2 linked regions of the Homo sapiens genome follow. The protein of the gene in region 1 interacts with the protein of each later gene in a biochemical or structural test. Each region holds a gene or a part of one and is shown in the gene's direction. Other genes may lie near its edges.

Region 1 (8,396 bases):
AGGAGGCCTTCCAGGACAAAGACTTATTGAGATTTAATACAGCAAAGTGATACAAAGCAAAATCAGCAACGGGAAAAGACACATGGGACAAAATCTAGAGGAAACAAAACACAAGCTTCCAAGAGTCCTCTCCCACTGGAGCCAAACAGGACGTGCTTAATTCCGCCAGCAACAAGTTGTAACCACACGTTAGCAGTCTACCAGGGGAGCTCATTAGAGACTCAGTACCCAAGGCTTTTATTGGAGGCTGTTTCCACAGACAGCCCCTGCCTAGCACATGCCAAAGTTCCAGATACCCAAAAGGAAAACAAGCGTTCACCATAAAACACATGTTTCTAGCAGACGGTTTAGGTACAGCTCGCCACCCTTATCAGTTAGGGAAAGAGCCCTCCCGAAATCCAAGTTCCCAAACACCAGCCAAGGGTTAACCATGCAAGCAGGTCTTTCTAAGGAGGGTAGTCAGGCCTGTTATGTTCATCCTCTGCAGCTTATTTGACTTATGAAGTCAAATAAGGGTGAAGGGGTCAGAGAGGCTTTCTCAATGTATGCTGACAATCAGTTAAATTCATAGAATAGGCAAGGCAAACACATAGCAAATATTTCCATTCCCTCATTTTGTGGCAATGGAAGAACCATCACCAATCCATCACAGCATTGCTGTCCACTGGGTCCAGACACAACCTCAGAGTCCTTTTTAACACAGTACTGCAGCACCCAGGCCCAATCTGTCAAGACAGACTTATAAGTTGAACAATATCTGCCACCTTGTGAGAGGTTATAAGACAAAGATAATAAGAACTTAATACTCGTAGACTTTTTTGTGTCTCAACATTGCTTCTTAATAATCATTACATTTGTGTTTCATTTGTTTAAGTGAGAACAATCCCTGTATAAAGCATTATCACATCAAGGAAACAAATGACAATCCTAAGCGATACTATGTGGCTGAAAAGTATGTGTTCGATTCCATCCCTCTTCTCATCAACTATCACCAACATAATGGAGGAGGTAAGCTCTAGAGCAGGGGTGGACCCGGGCCGCCCAGCAGGAGGTGAGCAGCAGGTGAGCAAGCATTACTGCCTGAGCTCTGCCTTCTGTCAGATCAGCGTCATTAGATTCTCATAAGAGTGCAAGCCCTATTGTGAACAGCACTTGTGGGATCTAGGTTGTGTGCTCCTTATAAGAATCAAATGCCTGATGATCTGAGATGGAACAGTTTCATCCTGAAAGCAACCCCCTGCCACATCCCTCCATGGATAAACTGTCTTCCACAAAGCCGATCCCTGGTGCCAAAAAGGTTGGGGACTGCTGCTCTAGAGGACAAAGCCAGAGGGCACCTGGGTTAGACTTTTTTGAATTGCTATCAAGGAATACCTGAGGCTGGGTAATTTATAAAGAAAAGAGGTTTAATTGGTCCATGGTTGTATAGGAAGCATGGTGCCGGCATCTTCTTGGCTTTTAGGGAGCCCTCAGGAAGCTTTCAGTCATGGCAGAAGGCAAAAGGGGAGCAGGAGTATCACATGGCAGGAGCAGGAGCGAGGAGGGAGAAGATGCCACAGACATTTAAACAACCAGGTCTTGCATGAACTCAGAGTGATAACTCATTTATTATCACAAGGACAGTGACAGCACCAAGGCATTTGTGATGGATCCCACCTAATGACCCAAACACCACCTCCCATCCCACCAGGCCCCACCTCCAACATAGGGCTTTTCTTTTCTTTTCTTTCTTTTCCTTTCTTTTCTTTTCTTTCTTTTTTTTTTTTTTGAGACAGAGTTTCGCTCTGTTGCCCAGGCTGGAGTGCAGTGGCTCAATCTTGGCTCACTGCAACCTCCACCTCCCAGGTTCAAGCAATTCTCCTGCCTCAGCCTCCTGATTAGCTGGGATTACAGGCATGTGCCACCACATCCCGCTAATTTTGGTATTTTTTGTAGAGACAGGGTTTCACCGCATTGGCCAGGCTGGTCTTGAACTCCTGACCTCAGGTAATCTGCCCGCCTCAGCCTCCCATACTGCTGGGATTACAGGTGTAAGCCACAGTGCCCAGCCAGGGATTACATTTCAACATGAGATTTGGAGGGGACAAACATCCAAACTATATCAGCACCCACACAGGAGACTTAATGAAAACTGGCAAAAGCTCGCCCTGGCTTCTTTTTGACTATAAATAATAAATAAATATACAAATAGAAAAATATGACAAATATTTAATTATATTATATATCTTCTATTAGCAAGCTATCTTGTGGAAATAATGGAATTTTACCACTTGCCCATCTGTGCTTATGATGTTTTCAAGGAGGATATGATATCAATAATTAGGCTTTGGGATTTGTTTTCCAGAATAAAATTAGCTTTTGCGTCTGATGATGATTATTATTTTTTTTAGTGATTTAAGTTAGATGGTTGCTAGAGCAAAGCCCTAACCACTGCTTCTTGGCTTTTCAATCAACCCAGGCCTGGTGACTCGACTCCGGTATCCAGTTTGTTTTGGGAGGCAGAAAGCCCCAGTTACAGCAGGGCTGAGATACGGTGAGCAGTACAATCAGGAATGTAAACTCATGTCCCTAAAGGTCTGGGGCAAATTCTGAATAAACTGGCCATGAGCCTACCTGTTCCTCAGACTACAAATCACCATTAAAACAAGTGTATTATATATCTAGAGATGATGGCACTAATGAATATTTACATTGTGTGTAAGAGAAGTACATATACAAGCACATTTCTCTAGGTCAAACCAGTGGCCATTGGTTTTAGTGAAGAGTTCATTAATGAAGTGTTTATTAAGCACCTACTTTGTACAGAGCACCCTACTAAATGCTATTAGAAAAATATTAGAAAACCATGCCTTAGCACTGTGTTTCCACCTATCTTCTAGAACTTTTATATCATCTAGTTGGTTGAGTAGCAGACTATTGCCAGAACTGCAAGTTGAGAGCATCTAGAAGTGTTTCTCTGCATAAGAGAGTGTTAAAATTCTTTGGAATACCTTTAGGCGTGGCATGATCTCCAGTGCCGCAGCCCCTACTATGTTTTCTTGCCCTACGGAATTGCTTCACTCACTTGGGATTACCTGCCTGGACTCTGAAGGCATTTGGCTTTGCATCCCTTGGTCCCAACTGTGTGCTGCCTGTGGAGAAGGCTGGTCTAATTTTCATTTCTTATCTCCTAGCTTGGTGGTTCTCAAATTTCAGTGTGCATCAAAGTCTTCTAGAATGCTTATTAAAAATGTTGACTCCTGGCTCCTATCCAAACACTCACCAAAACACAATCCTTGATAGGGTCCTGGAGTCTACTTTTTTTTCTGGCATGATCTCCCTCTGTCACCCAGGCTGGAGATGCAGTGGCGTAATCATGGCTCACTGCTGCCTTGACCTCCTGGGCTCAAGCGATCCTCCCACCTCAGCCTCCCAAGTAGCTACTATGCCTGGCTAATTTTTAAAAATTTTTTGTAGAGACAGGGTCTCACTATGTTGCCCTGGCTGGTCTTAAACTCCTGGGCTCAGGCAATCCTCCTGCCTCAGCCTCCCAAAGTGTTGGGATTACAGGCATGAGCCACTGTGCCCAGCTGAGTCTACATTTTAAACAAGCATGCTAGGTGATTTTGATACAAGTGGTCAGAGGGCAATACTTTGAGAACCACTGCCACGCATGGGCTTCTTTATCCCTAACCAGCACCGTGTCCGGCACACAGTAGGTGCTCAATACTGCCTGCTGTTGAGTCTCTGCCTCAAAGCAGTGGAAATCTGGCTGTTTAGGTACCAGACCAAGCACTGGGGAAAGAGTGCCTCTTTAGCCTCCTTATGAAAATAAGGGTATTCTAATAAATGTAGAATCTTGATGTGTCCGTGCTGGATGGGATTTCAGATATTACCTGGTCAGCCTACTCATTTTGTTGGTGAGGAAATTGAGCCTCGGAATCTCGTATTTGTTTGTTAAACATTTCTTGAGAGCCTCCCATGTGCCAGACACTGTGCTAGCTTGTGCCTCTGCACAAATTCTCTTTAAATCTTTCTCTTTAACTGCCCCTCTGCCCCAGTAAGGCCTAATAGGGTTATGTGTATATAGCAGGTGCTCTTAATAGATGAATGAATGAAAGAATGATCAGCTCAATGAAATTTACTTAGTGTGAAAAATGACATAGAAAAATGGGACATTGCAAGAACCCTTTCTTTAATATTTTGATTAATATGGTTTCTTTAATATCTTCATTAATGCCACTCTCCTTCTTTCCATGTTACCTTCCCACACATATTTTCATAGTTTTCTAGCATATCCTATGTTATTATGTGGGAAAAAGATAATTTATTTGCCATCTTTGAATTATATTAACAATAGGCTAAAATTCTAGTTAGGGCTTTATAGTCCCCTGGTATCCCAATACCTTATATCTACTGCTTGCTGACCCCAGAGAACTCTCTCTCTCTCTTCCAGGGAAATGGGTGATCGACCCCTCAGAGCTCACTTTTGTGCAAGAGATTGGCAGTGGGCAATTTGGGTTGGTGCATCTGGGCTACTGGCTCAACAAGGACAAGGTGGCTATCAAAACCATTCGGGAAGGGGCTATGTCAGAAGAGGACTTCATAGAGGAGGCTGAAGTAATGATGTGAGTGCTCAGAACAAGGATATGCAGAAACTCTGGGGGGAACATCGGTTCAGTGTTCTTGAAATGCCATTCAAACGCCAGGGGGTACTATCTCCCTGCGCAAACTCCCAGCAGTGGCTTCCTATTGCACAGAGAATACAATCAAACTCTTCACAGTGGTCTCCAAGGCCCACCATAATCTGATCATGCCCACCTCCCCCTTCTCAGCTCCTACCCATCTCTCCTCCAGTCCATGACATGCCAGCCACACTGGCCTCTGCTCATCTTCACACACACAGCTGACTCCTTGCCATTTTTCAGGTCTCAGCTCCAATGACATGTTTTTGTTTTGGGGAGGGAATGAATATTATTTTCATCCAAACCATAAATTAGACAAAATGACCATTGGCTATTTTGGTACCATAATATTTTCGGCATTTTTGGGAGACTGAGTTTAGGCCATCTCACCCCTTGTCTTTTTCCTCCAGGAAACTCTCTCATCCCAAACTGGTGCAGCTGTATGGGGTGTGCCTGGAGCAGGCCCCCATCTGCCTGGTGTTTGAGTTCATGGAGCACGGCTGCCTGTCAGATTATCTACGCACCCAGCGGGGACTTTTTGCTGCAGAGACCCTGCTGGGCATGTGTCTGGATGTGTGTGAGGGCATGGCCTACCTGGAAGAGGCATGTGTCATCCACAGAGACTTGGTATGAGCATGCAGGGTGAACACCCACAGGTCCAGGGTAAAGGGACAGTTCTCACTGAAATGACTGGGAACGCATTAATAAATAATACATTACAGATAATCTCCTTTCCTTTCTCAACTTCTCCCTTCCTTCACCTACTTTGGGTGGTCCTAGTGGAAAGGGCTTCATGAGGACTTACTTCTGGGCTCTGATCCCAGCCCAAACTCTTTCACCTCCTGCATTTCAGTTTATATTCTTCCAAAATGGAGATAACTGCCACTCCTTCTTAACCTCTCTGTGACTCAATTTCCTCCTGGTAAATTGAGGAAACTGAGTTTGTCTGAAGGTATTATTCAAGGGTCTACCAGAATCACACTGGGGAAGCCCTTAAGCTACTCTCAGAATCTCTGGTGGCTGGGACTCAGGAATATTCATTTTAACACATTCCCCGTATGATTTGTATGCACATTAAAATTTGAGATATGCAGCTGGGTGCGGTGGCTCATGCCTGTACTCCCAGCACTTTGGGAGGCCGAGGTGGGCGAATCACGAGGTCAGGAGTTCGAGACCACCCTGGCCAACATGGTGAAACCCCATCTCTACTGAAAATTCAAAAAATTAGCTGAGCTTACTGGCGGGCACCTGTAACCCTAGCTACTTGGGAGGCTGAGGCAGGAGAATCACTTGAACCCAGGAGGCAGAGGTTGCAGTGAGCTGAGATCAAGCCACTACACTCCAGCCTGGGTGACACAGTAAGACTCCATCTAAAAAAAAAAAAAAAAAAAAAATTGAGACACACTGGAGTGTTATCTCCAATGGCTTTTTCAATGCAACAGTCTATAATACTAATTAGGGGTCAGGTACTCTCCCTATTGAAGAACAGTTTTAAGAGGATTAACAACATCAAAACATTCTTAATTTAGTCAACTGGGAGATGCTTTCTTCCTGTTATCCCTGATGTTAACATTTCCTATCACATCAGGTTGCATTAGAGCCTATCTTTGGTTAGACAACACCAAGGATTTCTAATTAGAACTCAAGAATGAAGATAAACTTACTCATCTTGATAGTGGATCTTACACATTCAACTTTCCAGTTAACTTCCAGCGGCATTTGTGAGGCTTAATTAACATTTGTAAAGCTCCATGATGCCCTTGTATGACAGCACTGCAGTAAAGCAAAGGACTGTGATTATAGGAGACTCCTTAACTACTGATGACTCATCAACAGTTTTCCTCTCCGCCTTTGTTTGCCTGTCTCCTCTCCAGGCTGCCAGAAATTGTTTGGTGGGAGAAAACCAAGTCATCAAGGTGTCTGACTTTGGGATGACAAGGTAAAAGAGGGATGTGGTGCCGGTGAAGTCTCAGGAATGGGACTGAGGCCCCCGGAACATTCTGACCTTCTCCCTCCACTCTCTTCCCAGGTTCGTTCTGGATGATCAGTACACCAGTTCCACAGGCACCAAATTCCCGGTGAAGTGGGCATCCCCAGAGGTTTTCTCTTTCAGTCGCTATAGCAGCAAGTCCGATGTGTGGTCATTTGGTGAGTGTCATGCTGGGCCCCACTGCCCCATGATCTGGGCTTCAGGCCAGCTGTTTCCTTTATCAAATGCAGACAACCCTACCCACACTGAACCCTGTATCATATCATGAGGGTGTCCCACTGGAGGGTTGTGTAAGAAAGGCCCCGAAAACTATGAAAGGGCCTTCATCATTTTGTTTGTTTTTAGAGATACTGGACATGGTGGTGGGAGTTAATTAAAAGTGGAAACAAGAGTTCTGGTGCCAGCTGCTGTGAAGTCAAAAGCTGGAGAAGTCAGGAGATTCAAATATGAGCCCCTTGAAGGCAGGGACCATGTTTTGTCCAACACTACATTTCCATACTTATCTCTCAATAAGTATTAATATTTATTCATTCATTCAACAACAATTAACTGATCATCTATTCTATGCCAAGGGCTAATCTAGGTGCTGAGGATGCAGTGGTTCATAGAACAGAAAAGACTTCTGTTCTTTTGGAACTAAATTTGAGATGGGAGGGGAGACAGAAAATCACAAAAGATCATAATAACAGTCATAAACAATAATAATAATAAACAAGCTAAGGGATAGAAGATAAAGCCAGGCAATCATAAGTAGGTGCTATGAATAAAATAAAACAGTAATGGGGCAGAGTGACTAGGATAGAGAGAGGGTCTGCTTTGAATAGTGTGGTGTGGGAAGGCCTTTCTCAGAAGGTAATTCTTCAGCAGAGACTTGAATGATAGGAGGGAGCTGTCACCATTTGAAGAGCCAGGGAACAGTGTCCCTGACAGAGGGACCAGCAAGTGCAAAAACTTGGTGCATCCAAAGAACAAGGGGTACTGACTTATTGGGAGAACAACAGGCAATGAAGCTGGTAGGCCATCATAAGGAATTAGAATTTCTAAAAAGTGCAAATGGCCATGAAGGGATGAATGATGTTGGTATTGCAGGATGTGCCAAATGTTCTTGCTGGATTTGCCATGTCACCTGAAGTCATAGTTTGTGCATACTAAAGTGTGCAAAAAAATATACCAGACAACCTCTTTGATTTGGATTACAAGAATTATACTGTGGACAGAAACTACTTGAAGATTGATTTTTGCCATTCGGTATGAAGGAAGGGTTTGACAAGGGCTTACTAGTAGTAGAAACCAGGGGGGAGTTTGGCTAGGTAAATCTTTTAGGAGAAGAATGAGTGTTAAAAATCTTCTGCAGCATTTTAGTCTATCCATCTCTAGGAGCCAAGTGGTTTGTTCATTATGAGTCCTACCTATTTCTTAAAACAGTACCCTATTAACCAACCCTTGCAGCTACTTTGTTAACCAGGTTTAAGTTACAGAATGGACTTGAAAGAAATTGTACTAACAGCATTTTTGGATGACTCCCCTCTCCCCAGTGTGTATAACTAGGAAGGTTGGGGCTGATGTGCAGTCATCTCACTATGGGTGATGAAACTGATCACACTGCACCAAGCAAGCAAGGGCCCCACAATGAGACATTTGGAGCAATGGCCACTTTAGCACATTCACCTTCTGACTCTGAATGGGGTTTATTCAGCCAAAGGGTGTCAGCCTGGGAATTTCCTGGGGCATATTACCATTAC
Region 2 (7,000 bases), about 13 Mb from region 1:
TGATTTTTACATTGAAAGGTCACAGTTCCCCCTCTGAGAGTCTGACGGATTGTACAACCCCTCCCCAGGAACCTGTATACACAGTCACCACCCATGAAGCAGTCTCAGGCTAAGAACTCTATTATGGACCGTAGCCCAATCTGTTCATTTTACAGATGAGGCAACTGAGTCCACAGGAGAGCAGAACGTGACGTGCGTAGAACACAAAGTTAGTTAGAGGCAGACCTAGGACCCAGGTAACCAGACCCTCAGTCACGTGGGCCTTCTGGTAAGAGGCCACCTCTAGTGCCTTCAGAAGGCAGAAACAAACTGTCCCTTGACCTATTGGGATTCTGGTAAAAGAAAGTATTTAATTGGAAAAAAAACAAAAAAAAGATTTAGCTAAGTTTATGCTTTCTACCTGAAAATGAAGGAATTTGACAGATTTCTCTGGTACAAAGGGAAAATAGCCCAGAGTTTCCGCTGGAATGTTTCTGTTTACTCACAGAGGCAGAATCCTTGCCATGCAGCCTCTCTTGTGCTGTGCCTGAGGCTAGTCTTCGATCCTCTCTGTAAACTGAGGGCTTCCATTCACTAGTGGCTATAGAGCTTGGCAGCTCCGTTATGTGCCCAGCTCTTTGCAAGGGCATACTGGGAAATGAGTGGAGATAAAGGACCCAATCATAAGCATTTTACAGTATGGATACCCCATTTTAAAAAGGTAAACTGAGGCACAATGCAATTTTTTTTTTTTTTTAAGGAGTTTATTTGAGCAAACAGTGATTCATGAATCAGGCAGCACCAAACCAGAAGGAGGCTTTGCTGAAGAAGGATGAGGGACAAGCATTTATAAAGTGAATGTAGATGTAATACAAAGAAAATATTTGAACCGGGTGCGGTGGCTTACACTTGTAATCCCAACACTTTGGGAGGCCAAGGCGGGCAGATCACAAGATCAAGAGATCGAGACCATCCTGGTCAACATGGTGAAACCCCATCTCTACTAAAAAATACAAAAATTAGCTGGGCGTGGTGGTGCGTGCCTGTAGTCCCAGCTACTTGGGCGGCTGAGGCAGGAGAATTGCTTGAACCCGGGAGGTGGAGGTTGCAGTAAGCCGAGATTGCACCATTGCACTACTCCAGCCTGGTGACAGAGAGAGACTCCATCTCAAAAAAAAAAAAAAAAAAAAAAAAAAAAAAAGAAAATATTTGATGGGTTACAGTTATAACCGATCTCATTTAGTCTATCTTGCTGGAAAGCTCCTAGTTATATAATTATGAGTTGGCTGGCTACTTCTGATTGGTTGGGCTTAAGTTCTGTTTTTCTTTAATACAGGCATTTACAAGAAATAGCCCAAGTTAACTTTTGCTTATGCTGCAAATCAAGTAAGGTTTAGGTCACTGATGAGGCCCAACTGGTTTTGTCTGCTCAGGGATTCTTCAGGCCTGGTCTCCATTTTAATTTACTTTAACACACATATGGCAGAATATAATTAGCAACAACATCATGCATACAAATTTAGGAGCCAAATGATTGGGAGAAAATAATTGTTCTAGAAGCAGAGAGGAAAATTCTGTCATTTGAGAAAGGTTGATGGGGTAAAGAGCTGGTGTAAAGTCAGGAATGATGGGCCTAGGGTAGACAGGGTGAGGAAAGGGTCAGCAGCCTGGAGGGAGGCCACGTGCCTGCGGACCTCCATGCTGAGGCTCTTGATCTGAAGCAGCATTCCTCTGGGGCTCTGCCCACCTGCTCCTAAAGTTATAAGAACCCTGACAGGGCAGGACAAAGTCTTTTTTTGGAGTTGGGAAGGCACCCAATGCTCACTTTGCCCCTCTGTTGTTGATGTTTTTAATATTCCTCAAGTCAAAAACAAACACAGGACTCTCTCAACAGAACAACGTAAAGACAGTCTGCCTGAGGCCACCCAAAGCTGTCAGGATTTCTAGGACACTGGAACATTTCTTTCCTCAAAAAGTGGCCACTTCCCATTGCTTTTTCCCACACTGCCCTTGAGTGTTGAGGTCTGGGCTCATTGACTCACCCCCTGGACTTTGGCATGACCATGATGAGCGCTCATCACTGCTGCTGATGGTGCCGCCTTTGCTTGGGAGGTCATTCTGATGCTCATTCACCTTCATGGACTGCTTCAAAGGCAAGCATCCAGCACCTCGGGCTTACTTTCCCTGAGATCCAAGAAGAAGCAAAAATAAAATACAATAAAAAATCTAAAATTTAGAGATTCTTTCCAAGAGAACAGCTTCAAACTCAGTGTCAGATTTCATGAATAATGGATGTGTTGATACACTCAACTTTCAGCAAAAAGAACAGCACAGCCTCTGACGGTCCCCTCCTCGACACAACTTAATCTGCCTTCCACTTAACAGGCTTTGTTTATCTGTTTTTCCCCTTAGCCGGGCCTTCAACGCTGCACCAGGTTATAATGAGAGGACATTTTTTGAGCACAGGCACCCTTGAACAGAAATGGCAATTAACTAGTATCATCACAAATGCTCCAGGCCTTTAGTCTTTCTCATGGTGATGCCTGGAGCAAAAAATGTGTTTACTCAAGACAGAGCCTATTCCGGTACCTTCTATTCCAGCATCCTTCCCCTTTCTTCTCTCTCTGTTGTGCAGAAAGGTGTTGTGTAAAAAGGTGGTCCGAAGACCTTCACCAAGGTCTCAAGTCCATGACTTGCTGCCCCTGTGGTACAGTGCTCCCTGACCTCAGATTCCTCATCTGTAAAATGGGAGTAACCATCTTCAGGCTGCCTGGTCCCGGGTTATACTGTTGTGAGGCTTGGCAGGGAGAGAGTAGGCACAGGCACATCGAGGGCCACAGAGCCTCTACAAACTGCACTGTCCCTATCACTGTGTGGGCAGGAAGAAGACGATTATGAAAGTCCCAATGATGACCAGGATGGGGAGGATGATGGAGACTATGAGTCCCCCAATGAGGAGGAAGAGGCACCCGTGGAAGATGACGCGGATTATGAGCCGCCACCCTCCAATGACGAGGAAGCTCTGCAGAACTCCATCCTGCCTGCCAAGCCTTTCCCCAACTCCAACTCCATGTACATCGGTAAGGGCCCGTTTCCGGATTTTCTGGCCCGAGCAGCCCAAAGGCAAGCTCGCCACTGCTGCATGGAAGGCTGATGCCCCAGCTTGCCCATGTAGCAGAAAGCTCTGGGTCTCGATATCTGCTCGGCTTCTTAACAGCTATGTGGCTTTGTACAAGTAACTCTGTCTCTCTGGGCCTCAATTTCCTCATCTGTGAAATAGGATAATAAATGTACAGACCACATAGGTTTCCTGTGAGGACTACTAAGACTGCAACCAATTCTTGCCTATGGTGGCTGATATCAGCATTGAACTACCACCTAAGGCTATTTGGCAGTTTCAACTCATTCTGCAGTTTACTCAGGTACTCCAAGAGTACTTTCCTGTTCCTCCCCATCTTTTGACCAAATTATAGTTACATGGCATTATTATGCTAGAATAAACATGAAGATATTGAGTAGGGTTTGACTATAACTTTAAAAAATATTAGATGGTGTTTACGATTTTTATTGTCTATCTGTCCTTTTAGCCCACTTCTCTCTCCATTCATTCAACAAACATTGTTGATCTGCTGGGAGCCCAGGCCCCATTCTCAGTGCTTAGAAATGATCAGGAAAGAAGAAATAGCCCCTGCCTCCTGGGGCTTACATTCTAGTAGTGGTGTTGACAGAAAATAAACAAATATATTCTTAAATAATATACTTTCAGAGAGTACGCTGAAAATTGAAGGTCAGTACCACAAAAAACGAATACCATTTAATCCTTTATGCGGTATAACCCATTTCCATTTTAAAGCCCTTTCACAAAATGCTGTCTCAATATCTCATGGTGGTTTTTAAACATCTGTGTAATAAGGACAACCATGATCAAGTCTGTTTCATATACAGGGAAGTGGAGGTCCGGAAAAGCAATGGATGAGTCAGTTGTTGAGTGCCTTGTGTGTGCCAGTCATTAAGATACAGAGTGAATAAGACAGCCCTCGCCAAGGGACTGACAGTCTGGCAGGTGACGCACCCTCCAACAAATGAGCCATGAGGTTACTTGGTGAAACCGTGATACAGAGGCACGAAGACAAGCACAGATGAGGCTGGAGCGTTTGCCTGAGGGTGTATCTTTAAGCTGTGATATTAAACCAAGGTTAAAGGATAAATACAAGTTGGCCAAGTGGAAATGGATGTGGTAAGGGAAGAACATTTGGAGCAGTAGAAATGGCTGTGCAAAGGCCCTGAGGCTCAAAGGAGCATGGCCTATTAGAGAAGCTGAGAGATGGCCAGTGCGGGTGGAGCAGGGTGGAATTAGATCAGGCTGGGCCTTGCTCCTACCCTTTTCCCTGTGGAAGAGCTGCACCTCCCCAAGGCTGGGACTAGAGTCGGGCAAGAGAGGCACCCAGGGCACAAAGCGTAAGGAGGCCCTACCCACTCACCCCTCTTGCTTGATGGTCTTGTCCTGGCCTTTCCCTGTCAAAGGGGTAGGAAATTGCCAGCCTGTCAACCTGGCCTAGGGACACTTCCGTGGAGATGTGGATAATGTGAGTTTCTGCCCAGATAATGTGAGTTTCTGCTCGAGGCAAATCTAGCTTCCACTTAAGAGTCTGTGGTCTGGTAACAGAAGTTGGTGATCAGCTCCTCCCTTTATGGGAAGAGATGAGCAAAATGAGGAAGTGTCAGGGAGGAGATAGCCCAGGACACTGGAGAGGGGAAGGAAGGGCAGACAGAACAAGATCCCTATGGCAGTGAGAGCTGACTTCACCCTGCACAGGCAGCTGGGTGTGCCTGTGAGATTTTTGGCATGTGTGTGTGTCTGTGTGCACTCGTGTCTCTGTGTATGCAGGTGTGTGCATATATATGCATGTGTGTGCATGCATGTGTGCACATGTGTATATCTGTGTGTCTGCATACAGAGGTATGCGTATGTTTACTTCTTACAAAATTGTCTGAAAATCCTCCCTTCCAGTTCTGGCTGAGCTGGTTACAAAGAGGCCTTTCTTGATTGGCAAAATCTCTGATAAATACCTATTCCTGTGAAATGCAAAGAAAGCTGAGCCTGTGTATAAGGAGAGTGACACAAACTAGGACAGAAAAAATGGGCAGGGAGGGGTGGGTGAGATCCAGGCTGGGTCTCCCCGTGGCTGGGGCTCATGTGGGCCTGGGGGTCAAGGATCATGCACCCCCGGTGCCCCGAGCTGCATATCTGTTCCTGGAGACCCCTGAGCTTGGCCGATACTCCCCTTTCACTTTAATAACCTTGTGTTTCCACAGACCGGCCCCCCTCTGGGAAAACCCCCCAGCAGCCTCCTGTGCCCCCCCAGAGACCGATGGCCGCCCTCCCGCCCCCACCAGCCGGCCGGAATCACTCGGTAGGCCTCCTCCCGTTCTTTTACAGTACTTGGTGTCCACTGCAGTTATTTCCTCCGCCAGAGAGAAAAATAAAACTATAAACATCTTTATCTCATTCTAATTTTGTAAGAAAAGATTATAATCTTTTCCCTCGGCTGGGGAAAGGCAAACCCAAGCATTCACACGTGTTTCTTTTTTGGGGTAAAATACTGGTGGTTTTTATTTACTTCCCACTATTTGAGAGAAGTGAAAACTGTAAAATAAACCCAAAGAGAACCGAATTAAGTCCGTGGCACCTACTGGTGTTGCCTGGGTACCGAGCCTTCCTCTCTCCTGCAAAAAGACTTGCGCCACCTTCTGGCCGACACCTGAAATTCCAAGGACAGGAGCCTTCAGACCGGAGGAGACAGAGGTAGCAAACCCCGTTTTCTCCTTCTTCGAGCATACAGCCCGGTCCTTGTGAATCTGATAAGTTCCCAGAGTGACCCTGAGAAGCTCAGACTAAGGACTTGATAGTTAGGAATGTGTTCCCTTCACAAGTTTATCTACAGATGTATATTGCTTTTGAGATTTGAAGACCTTCTTTTGAGATGCAGGATTCACTTATTTAATCAGCAAATATTGTCTGAGCAGCTACTATGTGCCAAGCAGAGTTCTAGGCGTTGGGGATAAAGTGTGAACAAGATAAATAAGGTCCCTGCTTTCATAAAACTCAACTAGGGCTAGTTATCAGACGGTAGACAGATGTCTGAAAGAGATCATTTGAGTAGTTATGTGTGGTTCGGGGGACGGAAGACCAGGTAACATGACGGTATGGGGGGGGGAGGTGACAAGGACCTGGGACAGAATGAGCCAGTTGTGGGAAGAGCCGGGAGAAGAACGTTCTAGGCAGAAGGAAACAAGTGTAGGGATGCCAAAGAGGGCATAACCTTGAGATTTTCCAGGAACTGCAAGAAGATTCTATGGTAGGGACCCCATGAGTACTGAGAAGGGATCACAGGAAAGAGTTGAGAGGGCAGACATGGGCCAGCTCAGGCAGGGCCTCGCAGGACATTAACGAGTTTCAATTTTGTTTCTAATGTGATAGGAGGCTTAGCAGGAAAGTGACATGCTCACTCTGCTGCCTGCAGAAAAGAGCTTGCGTGGCAGAGTCTAGAACAGGGAGCTCAGATAGGAGGCTACTGCGGTAGTTCAGTGAAGAAATGGACATGGATGTTTGTAGGCAGAACATGAAGATGAGGAAAAGTGAGCAGATCCAGACAGGTTTTGGGAGTGCCGGCTCTTGCTGATGTATTGGAAGTGCTTCCTAACGTTTGGATCTTTATGCAGCCACTGCCCCCACCCCAGACCAACCACGAAGAACCCAGCAGAAGCAGAAACCACAAAACGGCAAAGCGTGAGTACAAGGGCTGCTCTCTCTTGCCCTGTTCCCACCAGGCACTCCCCTAGCCCCGCCCAACCCCCAGCCGACTGCTTTCTTCTTTTAATTGATGTCAGCCTTTTCCCCTTCCAGTCCCTGCTCCTTCAATAGACAGAAGCACGAAACCTCCCCTAGATCGTTCATTAGCTCCGTTTGATAGAGAACCCTTCACACTAGGTGGGTATGATTCACATTTAATGCATAGTA

What was found. Proteins that work in one complex are often made in the same cells at the same time.
Region 2: the proteins of ITK (region 1) and LCP2 form a complex in vitro, tested with the Homo sapiens proteins (2 studies listed by BioGRID, with this or other methods).

Annotation. Positions count from the first base shown.
Region 1 is NC_000005.10:157,239,188-157,247,583, forward strand, and holds part of ITK (tyrosine-protein kinase ITK/TSK), read left to right. Parts: intron 1-874; coding exon 875-1,008; intron 1,009-2,458; coding exon 2,459-2,533; intron 2,534-4,435; coding exon 4,436-4,607; intron 4,608-5,074; coding exon 5,075-5,291; intron 5,292-6,538; coding exon 6,539-6,603; intron 6,604-6,693; coding exon 6,694-6,812; intron 6,813-8,396. UniProt on the Homo sapiens protein: Tyrosine kinase that plays an essential role in regulation of the adaptive immune response. Regulates the development, function and differentiation of conventional T-cells and nonconventional NKT-cells.
Region 2 is NC_000005.10:170,266,778-170,273,777, reverse strand, and holds part of LCP2 (lymphocyte cytosolic protein 2), read left to right. Parts: intron 1-2,860; coding exon 2,861-3,059; intron 3,060-5,295; coding exon 5,296-5,393; intron 5,394-6,702; coding exon 6,703-6,769; intron 6,770-6,886; coding exon 6,887-6,970; intron 6,971-7,000. UniProt on the Homo sapiens protein: Adapter protein primarily involved in signaling pathways within T-cells, as well as other immune cells such as platelets, mast cells, and natural killer (NK) cells.